Homo sapiens: one gene and its partners. The protein of the gene in region 4 purifies or fractionates together with the protein of the main gene of each other region. This does not show direct contact. Each region holds a gene or a part of one and is shown on either strand. Other genes may lie near its edges. The genes, in order: GART, STON2, FLNB, MYO19, BNIP3L, ARHGAP42 and FLII.

Region 1 (3,500 bases), on a different chromosome or scaffold from region 4:
TCAAGACCAGCCTGACCAGCCTGGCCAACATGATGAAACCCCATCTCTACTAAAAATACAAAAAATTAGCCAGGCATAGTGGCAGGTGCCTGTAATCCCAGCTACTCAGGAGGCTGAGACAGAAGAATCACTTGAAACTGGGAGGCGGAGTTTGCAGTGAGCCGAGTCTGCGCCACTGCACTCCAGCCTGGGCGACAGAGTGAGACTCTATCTCAAAAACAAAAACAAAAACAAAACAAAAAAAAACTGAAATAAAATAACTGGATTGTTTGTAACACAAAGAATAAATGCTTGAGGTGATGAATACCCCATTTACAGGGATGTGATTATTACAGGTTGTATGGCTGTATCAAAAGATCTCATGTACCCTATAAATATATATACCTACCATGTACCCATACAAATTAAAAATTAAAAAAACTCCCTTCCTCTTGGGATAATGGATTAATAGATTGTGAAAAGCACAGATATTCCTGGATAGCCTCCAGTTCCATCCATATTGCTGCAAACGACGTGGTTTAGGATATGTAATTGCTCCTAGGATATGTAATTGCTCCCACAAATTCTGTATCTTGTGATCTAGCATTGTAGTAGAAACAGTATAACATTATGTTAAAACTGACTGATGAGAAATAAGCTGCTTAATTAAGCAAGAAAAACTGACCCTCTCAAGAACAAACCACTATGCTATGACTCTTACAATAGTTTCTTTAAAAAAAAAAAATTTTAGATTCGGGGGTACACACGCTTGTTTATTACATGGGAATGTTGTATAATGGTGGGGACTGGGCTTCTAGTGTACCTATTACCTACATAGTGAACATTATACCTGATAGAAAAATTTTCAACCCTCACCTCTTCTCCCACACTTCCCTGTTTTGTATCTATTGTTTCCATCTTTTTTTTTTTTTTTTTTTTTGAGATGGAGTCTTGCTCTGTCTCCAGGCTGGAGTACAGTGGTGCAATCTCAGCTCATTGCAACCTCTGTCTCCAGGGTTCAAGCAATTCTCCTGTCTCAGCCTCCAGAGTAGCTGGACTACAGACGTGTGCCACCATGCCCAGCTAATTTTTGTATTTTTAGTGGAGACAGGGTTTCACCATGTTGGCCAGGATGGTCTCGATCTCTTGACCTTGTGATCCGCCCGCCTCAGCCTCCCAAAGTGCTAGGATTACAGGCGTGAGCCACAGCACCCGGCCCTATTGTTTCCATCTTTATGTCCACATGTACCCACTGTTTAGCTCCCACTCATAAGTGAGAACATGCAATATCTGGTTTTCTGTTTCTGAGGCAGTTCACTCAGGATAATGGCCTCCAGTTCCATCCATATTGCTGCAAATGATGTGGTTTTATTCTTTTTTATGGCTGCATCTTACAATAGCTTCTTTGCTTTATTATCAACTTGGGCCTAAAGTACATTAAAACCTTAAGATCGACCTGTAAAGCAATTAAACTTCTGGGAATGAATCCTGAAGAAGTATCAGAGCTGGTTGTGGTGCTGCATGCCTGCAGTCCCAGCTACTCGGGGGGCTAATAAGGCGGAAGGATTGCTTGAGGCCAGAGCTGGAAGCTGCAGTGTACTATGACTGCATCTGTGAATAGCTACTGTACTCTAGCCTGGGCAACATAGCAAGACTGTCTCAAAAAGAATCACTATGATCTTGGCCATCAAATAAAAAAAAATCACATATGCATTTAAGAACATACTGAATATTTGCAAGAATGTTCATAGCAGTGTTACTTACAATAGAGGGAAAAAAATCAGGCTACATCCATCTGAGAGAATACAATACTCTTATTACTTTACCCCTCTATCCATAAAGGTTAAACATAAACTTCTTCTAATTAATAAGATAACAATAAAAATTCCTCAACTGTTTTCAGACTTTTCAACAACAAAGCTATGATACAAAATGAGCTGTAGCTTCTATCTTTTCTGGTTTCTCTTTAACCAGCTTTCTGACATCCTTTACTTTTTTCTTTGGGAGCTGTCTCAAATTCCTAAGAAAAGTGGAAAGACTAAGAATGCTGAAAAGACAAAGACAACCCTCATGATTCCCCCCAGTCCCTAGACTCTGCCGAGAGTAACCTTACAATCTCACAAGAGTGCGGGGAGGAAAGGAAGGGCAGTCAACAGCTCTACAGTGAAGGGGAAGCCACATCTCACCTGTTCCAGATATTAAGACAGCCACTCTGGCCTTTTTTTTTTCAAAAGAGAAATGATTTGTCAGGGAGCCATTCTTCAACACTGACCCATTTATTTGCATGCTTTCAATCAGATTCTTGACTTTCACACGTGGGGAACCTTCATTTCAAACATATCCATAAATAAGTAAAGAACAATTGTGAATTAACAAGAATAATGGAAAGAAAAATATTTTATGAAAACTTTAGGGTATGTTTTATCCTGAAAATAAGATAATGCAAGGACTAAAATGAACAACACATTTGTATCACTTAACACTACTCTTTCATAAAAACTTCCAAAAGGTGAACATATGTAATTACTTCAACTAAAAGCTGCAGATCACATCACTATCTTGAAGTGCACGGTGGATATATATGACTGCCTGCCAGTATTCTGCCCCTACTCCCCAAATCTTCCTAGCGAGACCACCCACAGTAGTGCCATGATCTCCTGGTCTCGGGGATAAGCATGTGACCTAGCAAAGCCATTTAAAGGCTTGATATGCGATGTTAAGAAAAAGAGGGTCTCTCTTTTTTTTCTTTTTGAGATGGAGTCTCGCTCTGTTGCCCAGGCTGGAGTGCAGTGGCGCGATCTCGGCTCACTGCAAGTTCCGCCTCCTAGGTTCACGCCATTCTCCTGCCTCAGCCTCCCGAGTAGCTGGGACTACAGGCGCCCGCCACCACGCCCGGCTAATGTTTTGTATTTATTAGTAGAGACGGGGTTTCACTGAGTTAGCCAGGATGGTCTTGATCTCCTGACCTCGTGATCCACCCGCTTCGGCCTCCCAAAGTGCTGGGATTACAGGCGTGAGCCACCACGCCCGGCTGGGTCTCTCTTTCTTATTGTAATGTGAGCTGAAGGATGTTATCTTTCCGGCATTTGGAGAACCCGCTTGAAAATGAATCCTACACAATAGAGGAAAGAAAGGCAGATACAGGTAAAGTCAACAAGGTCTGACATTTTTTTTTTCTATTTTTTATTTTTGTGAATCTTCTCTGTATCGTTCCAATTTTAGTATGTGTCCTGCCAAAGCAAGCATGTGACGTCTTTGTTAGTGAATCTGAGTGGATTTTCTGCCCCTCTGCCAAGTTCTAGCACTTCTCGCAGAGTCCTGACTGATACAGTACTTGTCAGGGTGCTTGCTCGCTATTCCTTGAATCGAGCTGAGTGACAGCAGAGCCATGAGGTCTTGTGTGTAGGGAGATTACTTTGGGAAGCGATCCTGTGGGGTGTGGCTGTGCATGCATGAATGCTTAGTTCTGAGGCAGAAATGAAGAGATACGTGGTATCGCTGGGGTGGGTGCTGTCATGTTA
Region 2 (3,500 bases), on a different chromosome or scaffold from region 4:
TGGATTTCTGCTCAATTCTGAGCACTGCGCTATGTCTTTGAATATCCACACCTAGCAGAACTATACAGAGGAAGTGCTTAGTAAATATCTGGTGACTCAATGAGTAAATTATAAGGAGCTGTAAGGTTTAGGGACAAAGCACACTGACATGCACACATCTCCTTAAGAAATACCCTGCATCGTGAGCTGGGATCGCGCCACTGCACTCCAGAGCCTGGGCAACAGAGCGAGACTCCGTCTCAAAAAACAAAACAAAAAACAAACAAACAAACAAACAAACAAAAAGTCCTGCATCATTACAGATTTACAGATGCTCCCCTAATTCAGACTGACTCATTCTCAGCCTTATGCAAAGGGTTCCATTTTAAGATTTTACAGACTTAGTACATTAGTTTCCTATGGCTGCTGTAACAAATTACCACAAACTTGGTATCTCAAAACAACAGTAATTTATTCTCTCACAGTTCTGGAAGCCAGAGTCTGAGATGAGAATCACTGTGCTAAAATCAAGATGTCAGCAGAACTGCACTCCCCGCAGAGGCTTTAAGGAAGCATCTGTTTCTTGTATCTTGCAGCTTCTGGTGGCTGCCGGCATTCCTTGGCTGTGGCTTCATCACTAAAATCTTTAAGATCAGCATTTTCAAATTTCTTTCTGTTTCATCTTCACAGTGCCTTCTCTTCTGTGTAAGCAAAATCGCCCTCTGCCACTTTCATAAGGATGCATGTGATTGCAGTTAAGGCCCACAGATAATCCAGAATTATCTCCCCATCTCAAAATCCTTACTCTCATCTACAAAGACCCTTTTCCCAAATATGATAATATTTATAGGTTCCAGGGAGGACAACCTAATGTCTTTGGGAGCCATTACTCAGCTTAGTATTACTGGAAGAACAGAGCAGGTAGCAGTGATTGCAGCAAGTCTCACACTGTCTCTACTTGCTGCAAACATCTGTGTTATTTCTGCATAATGCCTGCAGTTACATATGTGGTATTATTGCAATATACAGCACATGCATTCAAACATTTTGGATTCAAATTAAAATCTGAGCTGCACAACAGCCTCCTGAATGGAATGACTGTGTAACTTGGGGAATGTCTACATTATCCATTATGTGGGGGCAGGAGTGGGGGGCTAACGCCTAGTCTCTCCTGTGTAATTGGCCTTAGCTCTGCCAATTACTCTATCCTTATTGTTAAACACAATCCATGGGAGGAAACCCAAGAGGGAATTAGCTTATGTGGGAGAGGTTAGTTTGGGTAATAGGAATGTACTCTGCAGCTTTTGATTCAGTTTAGGTTCATTGATGGGTCAAGTTGGGTATTGGCAGAAAATTTGGAATTGAACCATTTTCTTTACCACTCTAATGCTGTGCACCGTCCCCTATGCTCCTTGGGTTTCCAGGTTAGAAACACTTCTTGAGGTGGGGCTGGCCCTCCACATGGTTTATTTCTGCTTCTTGCCTACAGACTGGGCATCAAGTCTGCTGGGAACCCATCCTACAGGACCCTCCTAAGGTAGAAAACTCCATCTCCACAGGGTTGAGTTAAATTTTCACACATATGAACAGATGGAATTATTCATACTTGAGCAGTTTTCAAAATTATGCTTTCATGCATTTGAACACTGTCATTTCTTGATTTATTCTCTAGTAATATTAATACATCTAAAATTCTTAGGACAATGCAGGGCTGAGATTAGGCTAAGGCAAGTGACACACTTGCCTTGGAGGTAAAATTTAAGAGGGTGCCAAAAAACTCAGTAATCAAAGTAACATTTTAAGGCAATATGTTAAAAATATCAACTCAAAATCAAAGCAGCAAACTACAGCTCACAGGTTGACTATCTCTGTAAATAAAGCTTTATTAGAACCAGTGAGACAGCCAGAGGGGAGGGGGTTCCCAGAAAAACTCCAACTGGCCTGTGCACTGGGGTGGAGCTGCGGAAGTTTGTGCCACTTGCAGCAGGGAAGAGCCTGGCCCCTCCTCTTCCTGTGTGGAACCTGGGATTTGGGCGCGGTCCGGAAGTGCTCTAGATGAACTCTGGCCTCGCTGAGAGTCCCTGTTTCCCCTCTTTTTTCCTTTTCACCCAATAAAGCCCTGCTTTACTTACCCTTCAAACCATCTGTGAGCCTGAATTTTCATGGCTGTGGGATGGACAAGGACCCCATCTTTAGCTGAACTTTAGGAAAATTCCTGCAACACCAGGTCCAGGTGGGCCAAGTGTAGCATAGTCATGAAAGTGTTAATTGAATCTTGTCTTTAAAGTACTGATATTTTGTTCATTAAGAATTTTTTGCATTATGTGATTTTAAAAAATAATTTTAAAATAACTTTAATTTTTAAACTGAATTCTTAAATATTTTTTTAAAAACTTTTTTTTCAAGACAATTATTACAATTTGATATGGAGCAAAAGTGCTTCATGTATTTTTTCCCAATCTGTCACAGAGAATGTTAAAAAGACATACTCAAGAATCACAATTTTAAGAAATTAATAATTTTTACTGCCTCATCAAGGATATTATTGGGTGAAATATACATTTTGTTTTACTGTGAGTAGACAATGGCCAAAAGTTTCATCTGCTGTTATTTTTTAACCATCAATGCAAATGTCAATGCAGTGAAAAGGCAAATAACATCTTAGAATTAGAATGAAAATGATTTTAACCCCAAAGACGCCTTGAAAGGGTCTCAGGAGACAGCAAGGTCTATGGGCCAGACTGTGAATTGCTGCCTTAAAGGGTAAAGCTTTCACAATATATCAAAAGCATTGTCAGTCACAAGATAAGATCCTCAGTCAGATGGGGGCAACATAATTATGACTAATCTCAAAATTAGTTTTGGAAAAATCAGTGAAGAGTTGAGCAAATTGACTGTCATATAAATAGTTTTGAGCAATCAGGAAATCTTTGAGGCTAAAGATAAAATGTGAAAGAATCTGAATGGCATGAATATAATCCATGACCTGAAGGCACGGCCATTTTAGGGCAGCAAAGTGGAGAAAGAGCACCCCACCCATCACTTACCTTCCATTCCTTGCCCCCACTGCCTCCTGGGTAATGAGGGAGCAGAGGATACTAGAGCAGCAGCAGCAGCAGCAGCAGGAAGAGTGAGGCAAACGGAAGGAGAGCACAGGGCATCCGAAGGCTGCTCCAAGACCTTGGGGCCGGTCAGCCTGGTGCGGAAGCTCTCCTGCCATTTCCTAGCACACAATCTTGGTTGAATTCCCAAAGCCCACTTCTGGCTGAGTCTCCTCCACCATGTGTAATATGGATTAATATTAATACCTTCCTCATACAATTGTTGTAAGGAGTACATGATATGAAGTAGCTAAGGCACTGAGCACAGAAACTGAGACAATAAGTATGCAGTAAATGTATCATATTAAGCAGAAGGAACATTATTTCTGTGCTCATTCACTGCCCAGTGTTCCGTAACTTTTCCCTACATGCATCAACACTTAGCCCAGAGCCTTCTCAGTGTTAGGTGTTCAGTAAGGG
Region 3 (3,500 bases), on a different chromosome or scaffold from region 4:
TGGAGCACTCAGGAGGCAATTAACCTGGTCTGCGGGAGACCAGAGAAAGCTTTCCAGTAACATCTCAGTTGCGGCACAAGAGGGAGCAGACAGAGAGGTGCTTCAAGTAGAGAGGCCTCAGCACATGCAGGAGCCTAGAGGCGAGGGAGGAGACAGGCTGCTGGAGCAACTGAAGGAGGAAGCCAAGTGGTGGAACAACAGAACGGAGAGAGATGGGCAGGCCCTGCAGCCCACATCCAGCCCTGTCCCCCACACATGGCTCCTGTGTGTCCCCCAGACTCCTCTCCCTCCAATGCAGCTGGCACCTTCTGACCACACTCAGCCTTCTCGGTCACTCGGCCACCTGGTGAAGCCTTGCCGTCTTCCTGAGTGTAAGCTGAGCTCCTGCTACATGGCTGACCCCCCGGGGGACCCTGAGGGCCTCTGACTCCTTGAGGGTGTCAGTTTTAAAGATGAAGCACAGAGGAGTCGAGGAGAGGAGATAGTGATTTGCTAGAGAAGTGCTAAACAGAGAAACAAGGGCTAGGCCAAGGACACTCATGGACTCCACTGTGGAGGGGGACCTCCCCATCCAGCGAACGGCAGCATGCCTCAGGCTACCACGCCCATCACCAAGGGGCTACGTGCACCTCTGCCTCGCATGGGAGTCCTGGTGCTCCCCATGGTATCTGGCAAAGTTAATGACTGCCGTGAAAGCTGAGGGATCTCTGCTTTGCATCCCAGAGAATTTATACTTTGTAGAATTAGAGATGGTAGACAGCCAAGACACACAAAGAATTGAGTCCCTGGCTTTCTAACAACAGCTGGGTTTCAACGGCATCCAGGTCTTTAGCTACGTGAAATAAATGGCTGGCCCTGGCAAACAAGCACAGGCCTCCACACTGGGGTGAGAGGAACAAAAGGGGGCTTTACTTTAGAGAGTGACAGTTGAGGATTTCAATGTCAACAGCTGATGGCAAGGGACTACCTCTGAGGCCAATCTTTAAGTCAGAGCCTCCACTAGAAGTTGTCTGAGCTCAGCATGAGAGTAGCCAAAAACCAACAAACCCGGGTAAGATAAACTGTCCAAGATGGCAGACCCCAAGCATTATCCGCCACTCCCCTGTTCCATGCCCAGACACATGTCACCATTCCCTCATGCCAGATCTTCTTCCTCATGCACTCTGAACCCCAGTCAATCCAGTGGTCTAGGGAGCCGCCACCAACCAACCACAGCTGGCCTACCACAGGAAATCAACATGCCATTACGGGTAAGACAGGACACGTTGTTAAAAATAACTCCACTCCGGGTTTTTAACCAGGCCAGGAAAAACTAGGCTAATATTTAAGCACCCAGAATTACCATGAAAGCAAATTAGAAGGTGGCAGGTAGCCGACTGTTTCCCGGCAGTACCCCCATAGGTTGCCTTAGCTAAGAAGCCTGATGCTTAGAAAACCAACCAACACTTCACTAAATATCTCTGCCTGGGAAAGTTCTGGGGTTCTGGAAAAGCCGGCATTTGGCTCTCTGGGAGGCAACAGAGAGCCTGAAACATAAAAAGGCACCATCCACACCTGATGGGAAAACCACAAATGAGTGTCTTTCTGTTGTTATGCTCAAAGACGACCATTTGCTTTAAGCTCACAGGTCGGCCACAGGGGACAAACTCTGACCCCTTTCTGTAAGGGGGATTCGGAAGCTGGTGGCACTCACCAGCCTTTCCCCATAGTCAAAAAGTTTCATTGCCACAGGAGATGTTCATCTCCACTGTTGCCTGCCAGGTCGGAGCCACATCACCCCTCCTGGGAGCAGCCTTCTACCCGTTTCCTGTGCCCAACTCTCTCCTAACGCAAGTGTTACAAAACTCCAAAACAAGCCCGTAGCTCTGAATTCTGTCACCGAGCCCCATTCTCATTCTTCATAGCAGTCATCACAAGTTTTAGTTGTAAAAGCCCTAGACAGTAAGCTCCCTGAGGGCAGGAACTTTGTCTTGCCCACAGCTGAAGTCCCCTAGACTAGTGATTATAGGAATTTTTTAAATCTATATTGAATGAGCCGCAAGCACAAGTTTGAGGAGAAACATGTTGTTTTAAATGACTTGAGGCTTAAATGAGTATCTGAGTAGAATCAGTCTGAGTTGAATGTCAATACTTTCTGATCAGTGTGAGAGAGAGTGAGTGTGAGTGTGTGTGCACATTTCCATGTGGTAAGGGGGAAGCAGGAATGGAATCAGGAAAGCGTGTGGTCAGTGGACACTCCAGCTGCCTGAGAGTTAACCCAGAACCCAGCAGTGGGCCCCTCAACCTGCCCTTCCCCTCTCAGCGTGACCCAGAGAAAGAAGAACAAGACCCCGCTGAGGCTCTTTCTGCTCCTGGGGTCCTGGGGTGGGGCTTTGCCCTCTTCACACCACACCTAAGACAAGGCATAAGTGGCCCAGAACAGCCCCAGCCCTCGGTCTTCTGTCCACACCACACACTTGCCTGCCCTTTTAGAAATGGGGGCGGGGGAGGTGGTCTCAGAATTCACCACTATAGAATTCATCCATGTAACCACAAACGACTTGTACCCCAAAGCTATTGAAATAAATAAATAAAATGTGTGGGGGTGACAATCATTTGAGTAGATAACTAGAACCTATGGAGAGTCCTCCCCCCAAAACAAATGGAGGAGGGTCTTTCACTACTTAAGTCATATATTTATTTATTGTTTGAATCTTTACAGCAGTGGTTCAGGCTGAAGTGATTTTGTCCCTTAAGACATCTGGCAAGATATGGAGACATTTTTGGTTGCCACAAATAAGAATGGGGAAGGAGAAGTCTGCTATGGGCATCTAGCAGGTACAGGGCAGGGATGCTGACAAAAGTCTACAATGAACAGGACAGCCCCACACCACAAAGAATCATCTAGCCCAAAGTGTCATAGTGCCGGAGTTGAGAAACCGTGTTTCACAGTGATTACACATGACATCACTAAATACAAAAGAAAGAATTTGAATCTGCATATCTTGATCAGCTACTAGTATTGTCAGTGAAAAAAAAGAAACCAAGACACATGAATAAGGAGCCAAGCACAAAATAAGGTAGAAATTTTCTTTCTTTTTCTTTTTTTTTTTTTTTGAGACAGGGTCTTCCTCTGTCACCCAAGCTGGAGCGCAGTGGCGCAATCTCAGCTCACTCAACCTCCCAGGCTCCCATCTCAGACATCGTCCCATCACAGCCCCCACCCCACATAGCTAGGATTACAGGCACGCACCATCACACTCAGCTAAGTTTTGTATTTCTTGTAAAGATGGGGATTCCCCATGTTGCCTGGGCTGGTCTCAAACTCCTGACCTGAAGCAATCTGCATGCCTTGGCCTCCCAAAGTTTGGGGATTACAGGTGTGAGCCACTGTGATTTTCAACTTTGTAAAGAACCAGCTTTCCCCTGAATCAAGAACTAGGTCCTCCAACACACGCACAACTGTTTCCAGTCAAAATTCTAAGCCGATGCTTTTTGCCATGTTACCGGTTCTACTGGGA
Region 4 (3,500 bases):
GGTGCTCGGCTCATTAGCTGACCTCCCCACCTCATTTATGAGGGAGCAGATGCTGATGGGGCTTCCCTCAATGAGATCCAAACAGGGCTGGTTGTCCTGGTAGTTGATGAATGACCACTCCAGGCCCTCAACTGCGTATTCCTCCTAAAGAACAAGGTGGGATGAGGTGGGAGAAGGCAGCTGTGGTCTGATGTCCTGACGGGCCATCCACGGCTGGCCTCGGTACCACAGCGTATTCCAGAACAGCATCAAAGAAACAAAAGTATATCAAAACATTACATTGTACTCCATATGTGCAATTATTATTTGTCAATTAAAAATAAAATAAGAAGGAACAAAAGGCTTCTAATCAGAACCTGGACTGGGGCTGGAAGGTCAGGAAGGGATTGAGGATCCAAAAGAAGGACCTGCCTCCTGCTCACCCCATCCCTCACCTGCTGGGCCCTTAGGTAGTGAGCCACAAAATGCTGCTGCAGCTTCTCATTGGCGTAGTTGATGCACAACTGTTCCAGACTGTTGTCAGGAAATGATTCAAATCCATACACATCCAGCAGGCCTGGGAAGATGGCAGAGAACCCATGGGGCCACTGCAGGGAGCAGATGGGGAATAGGGGACCAAGGAACCCAGGGTGGCTGGGCCCCTGCCAATGCCTTATACTTGGCAGCCTGGGCATCAGGCTGAGTGAGCATGACACCTGTGGTGGGCAGAACATACCTTCCCCACCCTCCACCCAAGGTGGCTCCCATCTCTACCCCATTCCCCTGTAGAGCTCAGAGCAAGCAGGAAACCCAAATGAAGTGTGAAGACAGCCCAGAGCATCAGGCCCATTTTTGAGTCTGAATTCTCTGGTTCTGATAGGCACCTCCTATGAGGAAACCAGGTCCCAGGGAACATTTTCTGTGTTAAATCTAGTTCGGAGGGCATTAGTCTCACTAGCCAATTTGGTGCCTAGAATTCCACCATTCCATGAGCAAACTGCACTTGTACCTTTAAGCTTTATTTCCTCCTATAACTGACTGTCCCACCTAGTTACAACCGTGTTGACCTCCCTCAGTCATGTCCCCCAAGTCTTTTTTTGTTCTCCCCCCTGAGATAGGGTCTTGCTCTGTTGACCAGGCTGGAGTGCAGTGGTGTGATCACAGCTCACAGAAGCTTCAAACTCTTGGGCTAAAGTGATCCTCCCACCTCGGTCTCCTGAGTAGCTGGGACTACAGGCATGTAGCACCATGCCTGGCTAATTTCTTTGAAATGGGGTCTTGCTATATTGCCCAGGCTGGTCTCCAACTCCTGGCCTCCAGTGATCCTCCCACTTTGGCCTCCCAAAATGTTGGGATTACAGGTGTGAGCCACGGTGCCAGCCTCCAAAGTCCCTTCTAATACAGCTATTTTCCCCAACCCCCACTACTCTCCCACAATTAGAGCTGGGTCTCTGGGGAGGTAAAGGGCTCTTTCAGACAAGGCACTGTTGAGCCTGTCTGGAGAGTTATGGACTGCTCAGATGTGGGTGCAGGAGAGCAGAGATCTCACCCTATGCAGAGATCTCGCTCTATGCTGGCAGGCAGATGCAAGAGGAGACAAAAAAGGGAAAGGAACTGCCCAGAGTCACACAGTGGACCCAGGGCTCCTGCCTCTCCATCCAGGGCTTTATTGCTCTTTTTCTGGAGTGCTCCCAGCACAGTGAGGCCTTGCTACCTATGAAAGTGGTCCACGAGTCGGTGTCTGCACAGATGCTGCTGTTGATCACTGATACCAGCCAGTCAAACAACCTGTTGGGGGAAGAGAGTGGACTCTGGTAAGAGGGTCTGGCTGAGTCAAAGGGGTGGTAAAATTGCTCCCCCCATCAGGGTGCTACACCCTGGGGGGCCCTTGTATTCTGAGCCTGACAGGTCAAAGACCAAATCCTCTCCTCTTGCTTCCGGCCTATCACGTCTTGACCTACTACAGATGCAGGCTATGGGCATGCATGTTGCCAGGTACACACAAACCTGGCATGTCCTTATGGGAAGACTGAGCACAGGACAAGCTCAGCTCCTAGGCTGGGGAGGGAATCAGTCGAGCTCAGTCACATGGCTCGAGACCCAGCTAGTGTCTTGGGAAGGGGCAGATGGGCCTGGGTGTGGTTTGTAAATAACTGAGTTCATTGAACACCCCTGCAAAACTCTACCGGTGGAGCCCAGAGCTCAAGGCCCCACCATACCCCCTGATGTAGTTCTGCACAAGTGGGCCCCCAGTCCCGAGGTCAACAATGGCATCCTCCACTCTAGAACCGGCCCCAGCCCAGAGAAGATGAGACTACCACACAAGACGCTGACACGTACAGCACTATACAGGGGTTTCTTCCTCACATTTTTTCTTAAAGTAATTGCTCTGCAACTTTTTTCCCTTCAGTAAATAAACTGGCTCTTTTTGCAACAGGGGCTGTGCAAATGTCCTGTGGTCAGAAGCTCACTCTATCTGTGTTCATCACACTTTATCTGCTCATCTTGGAGTGACTTGTAGGCAAAGGCTTTAAAAGCCTTTGACCTCAAATTGTGACCTGAAATTAGCTTGAGGCAGTGGTAACTAGTCTCTTGCTGAAATGGATTTAGTCTGGCCTCAGCTGCCCTGGACCATTTTCAACTCGGACGATCTGGTTCCCCCAGCAGAGCTTCTCAGGCTATTGGCTCTTTGTGGAGTTTATGAAAGCAGGGGACCCTCTCCCCAGAAAGGTGCCCAAGGTCTCATGTGCACATGCACACACATACACTCATTCTGGCTCATCTCAGAGGATTCTGGGCCCCTGAAGCCCTTACAAGGCCTGCTGAAGAATCTCAGAACTCAAGGTGAGAGATCATCCTTAACCACATGGCCAGAGGGTGGAGGTACCCACGTAATCTACCAGAAAAGGCCAGGACCCCACCTTCACCACTGTGCTACATGCTGTGGGCTGAGCCTCTGGCTTTACCACAATCTATCAAACTCCTAGGTGATGTACAAAGGCACAGGGAGACAGAGAGGCCCATTCAGCCAAGGATCTGAAGCAGGAACTGCGAAGGCTCTAGATCACCTTTGGGGCCTGCCTTGCCAGCAGACAGCTGAGCAGGTTCTCTTCACCTTGCTGAGGCTAAAGCAGCCTCCTGAACTTTAATAATGAGCTGAATTCTGGCCAGGAATGTAGCAACTTTCCCACTCAGAAAGAGGCCACAGACGCTGCTTGGTGAAACCTGGGAGCTGTGCCCTGATGTGTCCAGGGGTTTGAGGAGCAGGGAGAGGAACCAGTCTGTCTTATCTCCCACCCTGGGCCTGTGCCTATTGCCTGATGTTGTCTGGCCCAACCCCGGACAGGAAGAGCACTTGTCGGGGTCCTCCCCAACAAGGGGCCAGAGTAACTGCTCACCGCGCATAGATCAGTTTGGCCAGGCAGTCTCTACGGGTGTCACACTCGGCTCGGGCGCAGGGCTTCCGGAACACCTGCTGCTGTCTGCCTGCCCTGATGGTTCTAATCTGCACCATCTCCAGC
Region 5 (3,287 bases), on a different chromosome or scaffold from region 4:
GTTTCACCTGTTTCAACAGTTCTATACCAGCTTGTCCACAGGTTGAACTCTACTTAAAACTCTTCAGTCTTTGTAAAAGGCTCTAAAGGTTTGTGGGTACCGCTCCCCAAACACCGTGAAATCATCACTGACTTTCTTAAAACCAGTCACCAGCCCGGCCAAACTGGTTTTATATGAGTTTGTTTACTCATTAAATATCGGGGCTCGACAGCAAAGGGGTAGTGATTAGACAAAGTAAAGCCAGAGAGAACAGATCCCTCCACAGAGTAAATAAAGCAGCCCAACTCCTTCAAGATGTTCCTCTTTGGTGGACAGAAGGTTCTACTGACATTTCAGACACAAAAATATAGTAATATGTGAAATTATTCTGGTGCTCTATGTAGGACAAAAGAAAAAAAAAACCTTAAAAGCTGCCAGTGCTTTAAAGACAGCTCTTACTAATAACTCCTAAGGATTAGGGGCCTTATAATACTTTTTCATGCCAAGAAAGTATTTGGCCTCTTCAACAGCAAAAGCAGAAGGGAAGTTAAGGAAAGTATGTAACTAGCTTCACCTCCAGTGCAATTAAAGCAACGAACTTTTTAAACACTCTTTTTACATTCATCTATAGCAATAGTTATACTTACAGCCAAGACAAACAATCTGAAGATGACTGAAAGAGAGACGGCAAGGTATAGACACCAATCGCTTAAGGGCAATGAACTGCTGTATAGGCAGCAATGTATTAAACTCCTACACCTGCCCCACATCAACCCCCACGCAACAGTCACACAGTCCCCTTCTGCACAAACCCCTTCTAGGTTGCTGTTTGTTGATTACTGTCCTTGCCCTCACAAAAGCAGATCAAGCACCCAAGAGAGACAAGACGGGTGTGTGGAAAGCTGTATGCAAGTTTCTGAGGTCGTGACTAAGAATCTCTCTCCAATATGCTGAGCTCCTTAAAGGGAAGAAAAAGGATGACCCCATCTTCTGCATATCTTATACTGAAAATGACCCACTGGGCATGCTTAGAGCACAACATACGTCTTGAAAAAAATTAACAGCTACTGTTTAACTCCTAAAATCTTTCAGAAGTGTAATTCCTCAATTGTTTAAATCAAGGAAAAAAAGCAATTTATTTAAAAGATGTGGCTAAGAAACTAATGAATTACACGTAAATATGAGGTTGATTTTAGCAAAATAAATGAAAATACTACAAAGTTAAAAAAGGAAAAAATTAGCACCAATCAACCTACCAGTTTCATTAAAAAAAACTATTCAATGTAATCATGTATTTTCCCATATGAAAAAAAGGTATTTGCACTGACCACAAAATGTACATGCTAAAGATTAGTTTAGTTCATAAATTACTCAAGATTAAATATTACACAACAAAACCCAAAAAGAAAAATCAATCACAGAGGAGTCCGCTTACATTTGATCATTTAGGGGATTATTATGAACATCTTCTTTTTTTTTTTTTTTTTTCCGAGATGGAGTCTCACTCTATCCCCCAGGCTGGAGTGCAGTGGCATGATCTCGGCTCACTGCAATTTCCGCCTCCCATGTTCAAGCGATTCTCCTGCCTCAGCCTCCCAAGTAGCTGGGACCACAGGCATGTACCACCATGGCCAGCTAATTTTTGTATTTTTAGTAGAGACCGGGTTTCACCATGTTGGCCAGGCTGGTCTTGAACTCCTGGCCTCAGGTCATCCACCCATCTTGGCCTCCCAAAGTGCTGGGATTACTGGCATGAGCCACCACACCAGGCCAAACATCTTATTTTCAAATAAGAAAACACACTCTACTATTATTAAAAATGCTTATTTGTAGAACAATTGTGCACCCACTTTTTTAAGTTCACCTTATTTGCACTAAAACATTGAAAGTAAAGCAATAAAAACTGCTTTCACATACATTTCTTCAATCTGAAAATAAGAGGATAAAATGAATGGAAAAAACTTCAGGAGTTGACCGGTACTTACCCTAGCCCCAAAGCCAAAACATGAGAAAGGAAGAGAGATGGAATGAACACCTTCAGAAATTCTGCGGAGAAAATACCCCCTTTCTTCATGGCTCCACTTTTCCTCATGCTTAAAGACACAGAACGTTTAGGGTGTCTGAAGTGGAACTCCCTGAGAAAGAAATTCAGAGGCAGATGTCATTTGCTGAAAATATCGTGGGGATTACCAGGCCCATTGCCTGTAAGCGTGCGCAGATCAACTGTGTCCACTGACAAGAAACATGTGAGAACTCACTTGGGTGGAATGTTTTCGGGTCTACTGGACCAGTCTGATACCCAGTCCGCACTTTTCTTCAAAGCCTCGACTTCCTTCTCTCCTTCTACAACTTCTTCTTCTGACTGTAAAGAAGAATTCAAACTTTAAGAAAAAAAGGAAGACCAATTCCTCCTAATACAAAGAAAAATCTAGACAGAAAAGATACCAAACTCATAAGGTTGTGTCTCAGAAATTTTAGATAACAAACATGTTGCTTTTCTAAAAAATGCTGAAAAATAATGTAAGATCAGAGTATGTAATATCTTCAGAACAACCTGAGTGAGCTTCACTGTTGGGATATCTAAGCACAGCACAGGAACTGCATAAGACTGTACTTTGGGATGTAATGCTAAGGGAAGTATGAAAAACCTCGATAAGAGTTAAATCTGGGCAATACTTACATGGAGGTCCATTATATTATTCTCTCTTGTATGCACTTAAAATTTTCGTAATTAGGCCGGGTGCAGTGGCTCATGCCTATAATCCCAGCACTTTGGGAGGCTGAGGCAGGCGGATCACTTGAGGTCAGAAGCTGGAGACCAGCCTGGCCAACATGGTAAAACCCCGTCTTTACTAAAAAAAAACACAAAACTTACACGCTGGGTGCGGTGGCTCACGCCTGTAATCCCAGCACTTTGGGAGGCCGAGGTGAGCGGATCACAAGGTCAGGAGATCGAGACCATCCTGGCTAACACAGTGAAACCCTGTGTCTACTAAAAATACAAAAAAATTAGCTGGGCGTGATGGCGGGCACCTGTAGTCCCAGCTACTCGGGAGGCTGAGGCAGGAGAATGGCGTGAACCCAGGAGGCGGAGCTTGCAGTGAGCAGAGATCGCGCCACTACACTCCTGCCTGGGGGAAAGAGCGAGACTCCGCCTCAAAAAACAAAACAAAACAAAACAAAAAAAAATTAGCCGGGCATGGTGGCGGGCACCTGTAATCCCAGCTACTTGAGAGGCTGAGGCAGAAGAATCGCTTGAGCCTGGGAGGTGGAGGTTGCTTGAGCCTGGGAGGTGGAGCCGAGATCCA
Region 6 (3,500 bases), on a different chromosome or scaffold from region 4:
ACTGTTGAGTCATAAAGGCCCAGTGAACAGAGCCAACTGAAGGGGGAATGTGAGTTCAGCGTAAACACCTAATGCGATTTCTCTCTTATTTTCAGTGTATTTGAATGAAGCAGGGTTCAACTTTGTGAGAAAATGCATTCAAGCTGTGGAAACAAGAGGTCAGTGTTGCCTGATTGGTACAGCATCCCTGTCATGTGTCTCATTCTTACATGGAAAACTCTCAGAGTAGATAAATCATTGAAGATGTATTTGGTCATTAACATGGATTAATTTTAAGAGTAATATAAATGTATGTATCGGTATACAAATAGCTATACCTTGAGCTTCAGTTTACTAAAAATCATGCTTTAGGCATACTTCTTTTTTAGATTTTTTTCTAATACAGCCTCACTATACTTCTTATTGAGAAGCCCTGCATTATTTATTACTGCAAGCACCTCTTTGATTTTTTTTTTTCCAAGCATTAAGGAGGTAAGATTCTTAAGGAGCTTGTCTTCACTCCCTTCCTTCCTTATAGTCTTTCTTTTACTGATTTGTCACTGCCACAGTTTTGGTACCTTTCTTCGTTTTAATCATGACCTCTGTCTTGAAGTCCACTCCAGTTAAACTTTAAACTCACTTCTAGGAAAATTTGGCTAAAGCAAAATTCATATTGGGTTTTGGAGTTCCATAAACTTATATTTAAATTTTAAGTGCTGCCACTTCAACATTCTGAGAAGTAGTTTCCTTGAATTCTCTGAATCTGTTTCCTCATCTCTAAAATGAAGATATAAATGCCATAGGACTTTTCAACATGCAGGAGGACTCCATGACTCTGAAGAAATAGAATATGAGTAATATCGATCATCCCTTCCCATCTCCATTGCTTTTTTATATTCAAATAATGGTGAATAGGCAGCTACACTTTGCTACTTTGAAGATCTTCAAAGACTTTCAAATCACTGTTCAGTGTCTGCTCTGAGAAATAGAAGTCTGATGGGTATTTCCAGGATAGCTTTGCTAAAGTTAGACTGTGAAATTGGATAAGTAGCTTTCAAATTTTGTTAGGCATATGTCTGAGTTTTTAACATTCTGTACTTGCCAAGCTGTATCTCAAGCCGTTTTCTTGTGATTTTCCTTCCTATTAGGTATCACCATTTTAGGACTCTACCGAATAGGAGGAGTGAACTCCAAAGTTCAAAAACTCATGAATACCACATTTTGTAAGTTTTGGATGAAGCAACTTACATAATTTTTGTGTTCTTATAGGTAATCTAAAGTATGGACTTCTTTGACTAGTGCTTGTCTTTGAATATTTTCAAATAATATTTAAAGTTCATATATGTATTCAGTTTTTAATGTTCATTTATAATAGATGAACGATGAGAATTTGAGGGGGCATTTTTATAATACTGTATTTTTTTTCCCCAAGTGTCCTTTGGTAAGCTAGAGATACAATAAGATGCATGGATGCTAGCTGGAGTCATTTGGAATCCTAGCTCAGCCACTTACAGGTTTTGTGACCTTGAGTAATTTGCTTAACGTCTTTGTGTCTCAGCCTCCTCATTTATAAAAATAGGGATAATAATGGTACCTGCCTCTTAAGAGTTGTGAGGATTGACTATGTTAATCTCCGTAAAGCACTTAGAAGCATGCTAGGCACATGGTAAGTGCTCTGTCATGTTAACAATTAGCAATAATTTCATTTGGGAGACTTATTTCATAAGATATATCTTTGAGGTTTAGTGTCAGCTTTTTATCAATTCACGCAAACAACAGTACTAATGTTAACTCTTGGCATTCTAAGAAATGAATACCTCTCTCTTTTGACCTACTTACGTTTGTGCCCATTTTTCATAATTGCATAAGAAATATTTTGAACTGCACAATTTAAACACCTTGTTTTATTCTTTCCAGCTCCTAAATCCCCTCCTGATATTGATATTGATATTGAACTGTGGGACAATAAGACGATAACAAGTGGGCTGAAAAACTACCTCAGGTGAGGAGGGTTTAACTCCTGGTACTCTGGATGTAATCTCTGACTCACCCCTTGAGTAGTAACCACGTGATTTCTTGGAGCCTGTGTCCAGAAGCTTCACTCAGTAGCTCAGTTCCCTTACATAAGGTGAAATAGCATGACATGGTAACATTTACATTTAGTGTTCTGGAACTTGTACTTGATTTTTTCAATAATAATTTAAAAGGCTATATAATATTTTGAGTACTGAATTAGTATTTGTTGTCCCATATGTATATGGGATTTTTATGTACTTTTTTAAATAACAAATTGGAATGGAAAGTTGTGTTGTTTTTGTTTTGTTTTTTAACTATTGTTCCCATATTTGTTCCTCTGGTAAGGTAATTCTGATATTGGGAGACTCCCAGTCTCCCCTCTTAATACAGTCATGGAAAGAAGTACATTGGTGTCTTCGAGGTCTGCGTTTCAGGTCTCTCTGTGGCCCCACTACTGGAACTTTATCATACTGCCAAATCACCCAATTCTTTTATTTACTTATTTATGTGTTATTTTATTTTTAATTGATGAATAACAGTCACCTAATTCTTAAAGAAACACTTAACGTTTAGGGGAGAATAAAAGATTCTACTATTCTAACATGTGTTTCCTTTCTCTGTTGTAGGTGCCTTGCAGAACCACTGATGACTTACAAGTTGCACAAAGATTTTATCATTGCTGTTAGTAAGTATACTTGCATCATATACACATTATAATTGATGTAGTTTTATGCTGCCATACTTAGGCATATATTACTAGTATCAGCTAGTGAAGATTTTTTTCAAGTATTGCTTAAAAAGTTGTTAATCTGGGCCGGGTGCGGTGGCTCAAACCTGTAATTCCAGCACTTTGGGAGGCCAAGGCTGGCGGATCACCTGAGGTCGGGAGTTCGAGACCAGCCTGACCAACATGGAGAAACCCTGTCTCTACTAAAAATACAAAATTAGCTGGGCATGGTGGCACATGCCTGTAATCCCAGCTGCTCGGGAAGCTGAGGCAGGAGGATCACTTGAACCCAGGAGGCGGAGGTTATGGTGAGTCGAGATCGCGCCATTGCACTCCAGCCTGGGCAACAAGAGCGAAACTCCATCTCAAATTAAAAAAAAGAAAAAAGTTGTTAATCTGATATTTAGTAATTTATAATGTGTTTTAGAAGCCAATAAGAAATTGCAGAATTAACTGAAATATTTTGACACTTAGTGAGACCTCATTGGGTAAGTGTGGTGATTATAAAGAACCATGAGGAATTATTATTCTAATTTCATTTTATTTGAATGACAAATACCAGTTTCTTTTAAGAGCAACTAAGCAGGACTCTAAATACGTACAGACGATTATGTCCCTGCACATGCTCATGTGCTGTATTCCTCAATCTGGAGATGAGTCAAATATTTTTGGCAGACAGCAGGTGCTTCCATCAATCCCCTCTCCCTCATATTTTATTTGCAATGATCACATTTATGTCATTTGTTTAGATCTGTGATTGCCGTCATATGATATGAAT
Region 7 (3,500 bases), about 18 Mb from region 4:
ACACCATTCTCTGGCCCTGTTCCCTCATGCTCAAGCTTTCTGCATGTCTGTAAGGTATGAGGAGGTGTCAGTCTTAAGTTAGGGAGAGAAAGCAGACTTCCTCTCCATCCAGATTCTGATTTCTCTGTGGTCCACTTCTCTCCCTCTGTTCTGAAAACCCTGACTCAGACCTTACCCCTATCTCACCTTCTGGAATTAAGAAGAAGAGAAATGGTTTGAACAGAAAAGGTTCCCTGAGGGCCCTGTGCTGGGGCTCCGGGGCACATTTGAGCTGGGCTTTGAGGCATGAATAGGAGCTCACTGGGAGGCTAGGAAGAGCGCTCCAGGAGAGGGAGCTATTTGATCAAAGGCCAGAGGTGAGAGAGTCCTCAGGCCTGGCCTCTGGTGAGCTGCCTGAGGAGGTGTCCCTCTCTAGACTCTGTTCCTTCCTGAGAGTGGAAGCCAGGAATTATAGACTCTTATGGTTTATTCCCAGGCCATCGTGGCCCGAGCCAACAGTCTGAAGAATTCCGGAGTCCCCGATGACATCTTCAAGCTAGATGATCTCTCAGTCCTGGTCAGTGGCTACCCACTCACCTGGCCCCTGTGCTAGCCGGACCATTCAATCCCCACTCACTATAAAAGTCCCTGGGGCCATTGTTATCCCATTTTGCAGATGGGAAAACTGAGTCTTGGAGTGGATAATACCTTGCCTGAGGTCACTTTTGGAGTCAGATCCCTAACACAGGCACTCTTCCTCCCAAGTCCCTGGCTGTCTCCCTTTGGCCCTGAAGCCCCCTCATCTACCCCCACACCCAACTCAGTGCCCTGCCTGATCCCCAAGCTTGGCAGACGCCTGGTGGGGAGGAGACTCCCCTGACCTGGGTCTTGCCCCTTCTACCCAGGACTTGAGCCACAACCAGCTGACAGAGTGCCCGCGGGAGCTGGAGAACGCCAAGAACATGCTGGTGCTGAACCTCAGCCACAACAGGTGCCAGGCCAGTGGGGGGCAGGGGGCAGGTGGGCCCTGTGGGGTGGCTGGTGCTGACTCAGGTGGCTCCTGCTCCCCACCCGTAGCATCGACACCATCCCCAACCAGCTCTTCATCAACCTCACTGACCTACTATACCTGGACCTCAGCGAGAACCGCCTGGAGAGCCTGCCCCCGCAGATGCGCCGCCTGGTGCACCTGCAGACGCTCGTGCTCAATGGAAACCCCCTGCTGCATGCACAGCTCCGGTGGGCGCCCCCTCGGACCGCACTCCTGCAGAAGCCACCCTGAGGAGTCTGGCCGGGCCCCTTCACTTCCCAGGGCCCTAACCCTTCTCCCTTAGGCCCAGCCATCCCTCCGTGCAGGCAGCACCCCTCAGTGTACAACCTCCTAAGTATCATGTCCACCTCTCAGTCCTGTCTTCCCGCTTACACACCCCGCAACCACCCTTGGGCTTGTCCCTTCAACCAGATGTGACCTCACACCTACCCTCTGGGCCCTGTGCTTTTGGTCCTGCCCTGCCAAGCCCCACCCTTAACACTCCCTAGGTGGGCCCTGGCCCTGACCACTCACGTCACCCTGGCAGGCAGCTCCCAGCGATGACGGCCCTGCAGACCCTGCACCTGCGGAGCACCCAGCGCACCCAGAGCAACCTGCCCACCAGCCTGGAGGGTCTGAGCAACCTCGCAGGTCAGGCAGCCCCAGGAGCCCCTCTGAGCTCGGGCCCCCTCTGGGCCCTCTTGCTTCCTTGGGTGGAAGGGGTTGAACCCTGCTCTTCGGACCAATACCCAGAGGGAAAAGGCTGGAGTTATGTTACAGTGACTTTTGCGATTATGATGATGCCTTAACACTGACTTTATGCCTAGAAAACTCCCCCGCAACCCCCATGTGAGGGAGTTTGTCCAAATGGAGAAACTTGGGCGCACAGCAGTTGTCACTTGCCTAAGCCACACAGCTCAGAGGTGGCAGAGCTGGGGTTCACACTAGGGCTGGCTGCCCTGGCACCTGGTGTATGGGCCCCAGCTGATGCACCCCACCCTGCACCCCAGACGTGGATCTGTCCTGCAATGACCTGACACGGGTGCCCGAGTGTCTGTACACCCTCCCCAGCCTGCGCCGCCTCAACCTCAGCAGCAACCAGATCACGGAGCTGTCCCTGTGCATAGACCAGTGGGTGCACGTGGAAACTCTGAACCTGTCCCGAAATCAGCTCACCTCACTGCCCGTGCGTCTGAGGCCCTCAGTAGGGGGATGGGAGGAAGGCCGTGAGCCTGGCCCTGACCTCCCACCCCTGCCCGTTCCCCCTCCAGTCAGCCATTTGCAAGCTGAGCAAGCTGAAGAAGCTGTACCTGAATTCCAACAAGCTGGACTTTGACGGGCTGCCCTCAGGCATTGGCAAGCTCACCAACCTGGAAGAGTTCATGGCTGCCAACAACAACCTGGAGCTGGTCCCTGAAAGTCTCTGCAGGTGCTGGGCAGGGCTGGGGCTAGCAGAGGCACTTGCAGCACAGAGAACCCCGGGATCGTAGTCAGAGCCCACCTTGTGGTCTGTGCAAGTCAGACAAAATGAAGATGGGTTAATTCACCTTTTCTTTTCTTTTCTTTTCTTTTTTGTTTTTGAGACAGAGTCTCGCTCTGTCGCCTGGGCTGGAATGTAGTGGTGCAATCTCGGCTGACTGCAGCCTCTGTCTCCCAGGTTCAAGCGAATCTCCTGCCTCAGCCTCCTGAGTAGCTGGGATTATAGGCGTGCGCTACCACGCCCGGCTCTTTTTGTATTTTTAGTAGAGATGGGGTCTCACCATGTTGGCCAGGCTGGTCTTGAATGCCTGTCCTCAAATGATCAGCCTCCCAAAGTGCTGGGATTACAGGTGTGAGCCACCACGCCCGGCCCAGTTAACTCACCTTTGTGGATGAAGACCACAGTCCCATGCCAGCCATTCCCAACTTGAGCCCCTGAGAGCACCCTTCGGGGGGCACTGTTAGGGACAAGGCCACATGACGTGGGAACGCAGTGTTGCTTCTCTCCCCTTCTGGAGATCACAGTGCCCGTAACATGGTCTCTTGGCTCTGAGAAGTCCTTCAGGCAGAGAATGGAGACCCCCGCCAGTTCCTCTGACCCTACCTGCCTCCCCTCCCCAGGACTAGGGGTTTTCTTGCCCACTTCCCCTTGTCTGTCACCTGCCTGAGGCCCTGGCTGGCCCTGTCTTCACAGGTGCCCAAAGCTGAGGAAACTTGTCCTGAACAAGAACCACCTGGTGACCCTCCCAGAAGCCATCCATTTCCTGACGGAGATCGAGGTCAGGCATGCTGGGTTTGAGAGGGCTCAAGAGAGACAAGCAAGGGGTGTGCCCTGGAGCAAGGGGGACCCAGCAGAGGCCTCCTGAGGGAGGTGGCCAGTGCCAGGGTGCCCGTGGGGAGAAGGTGGGCCCCACCTCCCTGCATCCAGAGTACATTCCACAGTCTCATTTAAGCCCCCAGCCAGCCCCAGAGGTGGGTGGGAGGAGAACCCAGTTCCCTGACCTCTCAGCCC

What was found.
Region 1: the proteins of MYO19 (region 4) and GART purify together in Homo sapiens (affinity purification with mass spectrometry; one large-scale study listed by BioGRID and IntAct). This does not show direct contact.
Region 2: the proteins of MYO19 (region 4) and STON2 purify together in Homo sapiens (affinity purification with mass spectrometry; one large-scale study listed by BioGRID and IntAct). This does not show direct contact.
Region 3: the proteins of MYO19 (region 4) and FLNB purify together in Homo sapiens (affinity purification with mass spectrometry; one large-scale study listed by BioGRID and IntAct). This does not show direct contact.
Region 5: the proteins of MYO19 (region 4) and BNIP3L purify together in Homo sapiens (affinity purification with mass spectrometry; one large-scale study listed by BioGRID and IntAct). This does not show direct contact.
Region 6: the proteins of MYO19 (region 4) and ARHGAP42 purify together in Homo sapiens (affinity purification with mass spectrometry, with the first as the bait; one large-scale study listed by BioGRID). This does not show direct contact.
Region 7: the proteins of MYO19 (region 4) and FLII purify together in Homo sapiens (affinity purification with mass spectrometry; one large-scale study listed by BioGRID and IntAct). This does not show direct contact.

The regions. Positions count from the first base shown.
Region 1 is NC_000021.9:33,507,618-33,511,117, forward strand, and holds part of GART (trifunctional purine biosynthetic protein adenosine-3), read right to left. Parts: intron 2,304-3,500; coding exon 2,166-2,303; intron 1-2,165. UniProt on the Homo sapiens protein: Trifunctional enzyme that catalyzes three distinct reactions as part of the 'de novo' inosine monophosphate biosynthetic pathway.
Region 2 is NC_000014.9:81,390,325-81,393,824, forward strand, and holds part of STON2 (stonin-2), read right to left. Parts: intron 1-3,500. UniProt on the Homo sapiens protein: Adapter protein involved in endocytic machinery. Involved in the synaptic vesicle recycling. May facilitate clathrin-coated vesicle uncoating.
Region 3 is NC_000003.12:58,126,922-58,130,421, reverse strand, and holds part of FLNB (filamin-B), read right to left. Parts: intron 1-3,500. UniProt on the Homo sapiens protein: Connects cell membrane constituents to the actin cytoskeleton. May promote orthogonal branching of actin filaments and links actin filaments to membrane glycoproteins. Anchors various transmembrane proteins to the actin cytoskeleton.
Region 4 is NC_000017.11:36,507,369-36,510,868, forward strand, and holds part of MYO19 (unconventional myosin-XIX), read right to left. Parts: coding exon 3,378-3,500; intron 1,768-3,377; coding exon 1,694-1,767; intron 557-1,693; coding exon 435-556; intron 145-434; coding exon 31-144; coding exon of another isoform or gene 23-30; intron 1-22. UniProt on the Homo sapiens protein: Actin-based motor molecule with ATPase activity that localizes to the mitochondrion outer membrane. Motor protein that moves towards the plus-end of actin filaments. Required for mitochondrial inheritance during mitosis.
Region 5 is NC_000008.11:26,407,054-26,410,340, reverse strand, and holds part of BNIP3L (BCL2/adenovirus E1B 19 kDa protein-interacting protein 3-like), read right to left. Parts: intron 2,342-3,287; coding exon 2,238-2,341; intron 2,115-2,237; coding exon 1,965-2,114; intron 1-1,964.
Region 6 is NC_000011.10:100,959,788-100,963,287, forward strand, and holds part of ARHGAP42 (rho GTPase-activating protein 42), read left to right. Parts: intron 1-95; coding exon 96-158; intron 159-1,127; coding exon 1,128-1,202; intron 1,203-1,896; coding exon 1,897-1,981; intron 1,982-2,621; coding exon 2,622-2,680; intron 2,681-3,500. UniProt on the Homo sapiens protein: May influence blood pressure by functioning as a GTPase-activating protein for RHOA in vascular smooth muscle.
Region 7 is NC_000017.11:18,252,239-18,255,738, reverse strand, and holds part of FLII (protein flightless-1 homolog), read left to right. Parts: intron 1-475; coding exon 476-556; intron 557-884; coding exon 885-970; intron 971-1,056; coding exon 1,057-1,218; intron 1,219-1,556; coding exon 1,557-1,660; intron 1,661-2,019; coding exon 2,020-2,195; intron 2,196-2,280; coding exon 2,281-2,438; intron 2,439-3,182; coding exon 3,183-3,267; intron 3,268-3,500. UniProt on the Homo sapiens protein: Is a regulator of actin polymerization, required for proper myofibril organization and regulation of the length of sarcomeric thin filaments. It also plays a role in the assembly of cardiomyocyte cell adhesion complexes.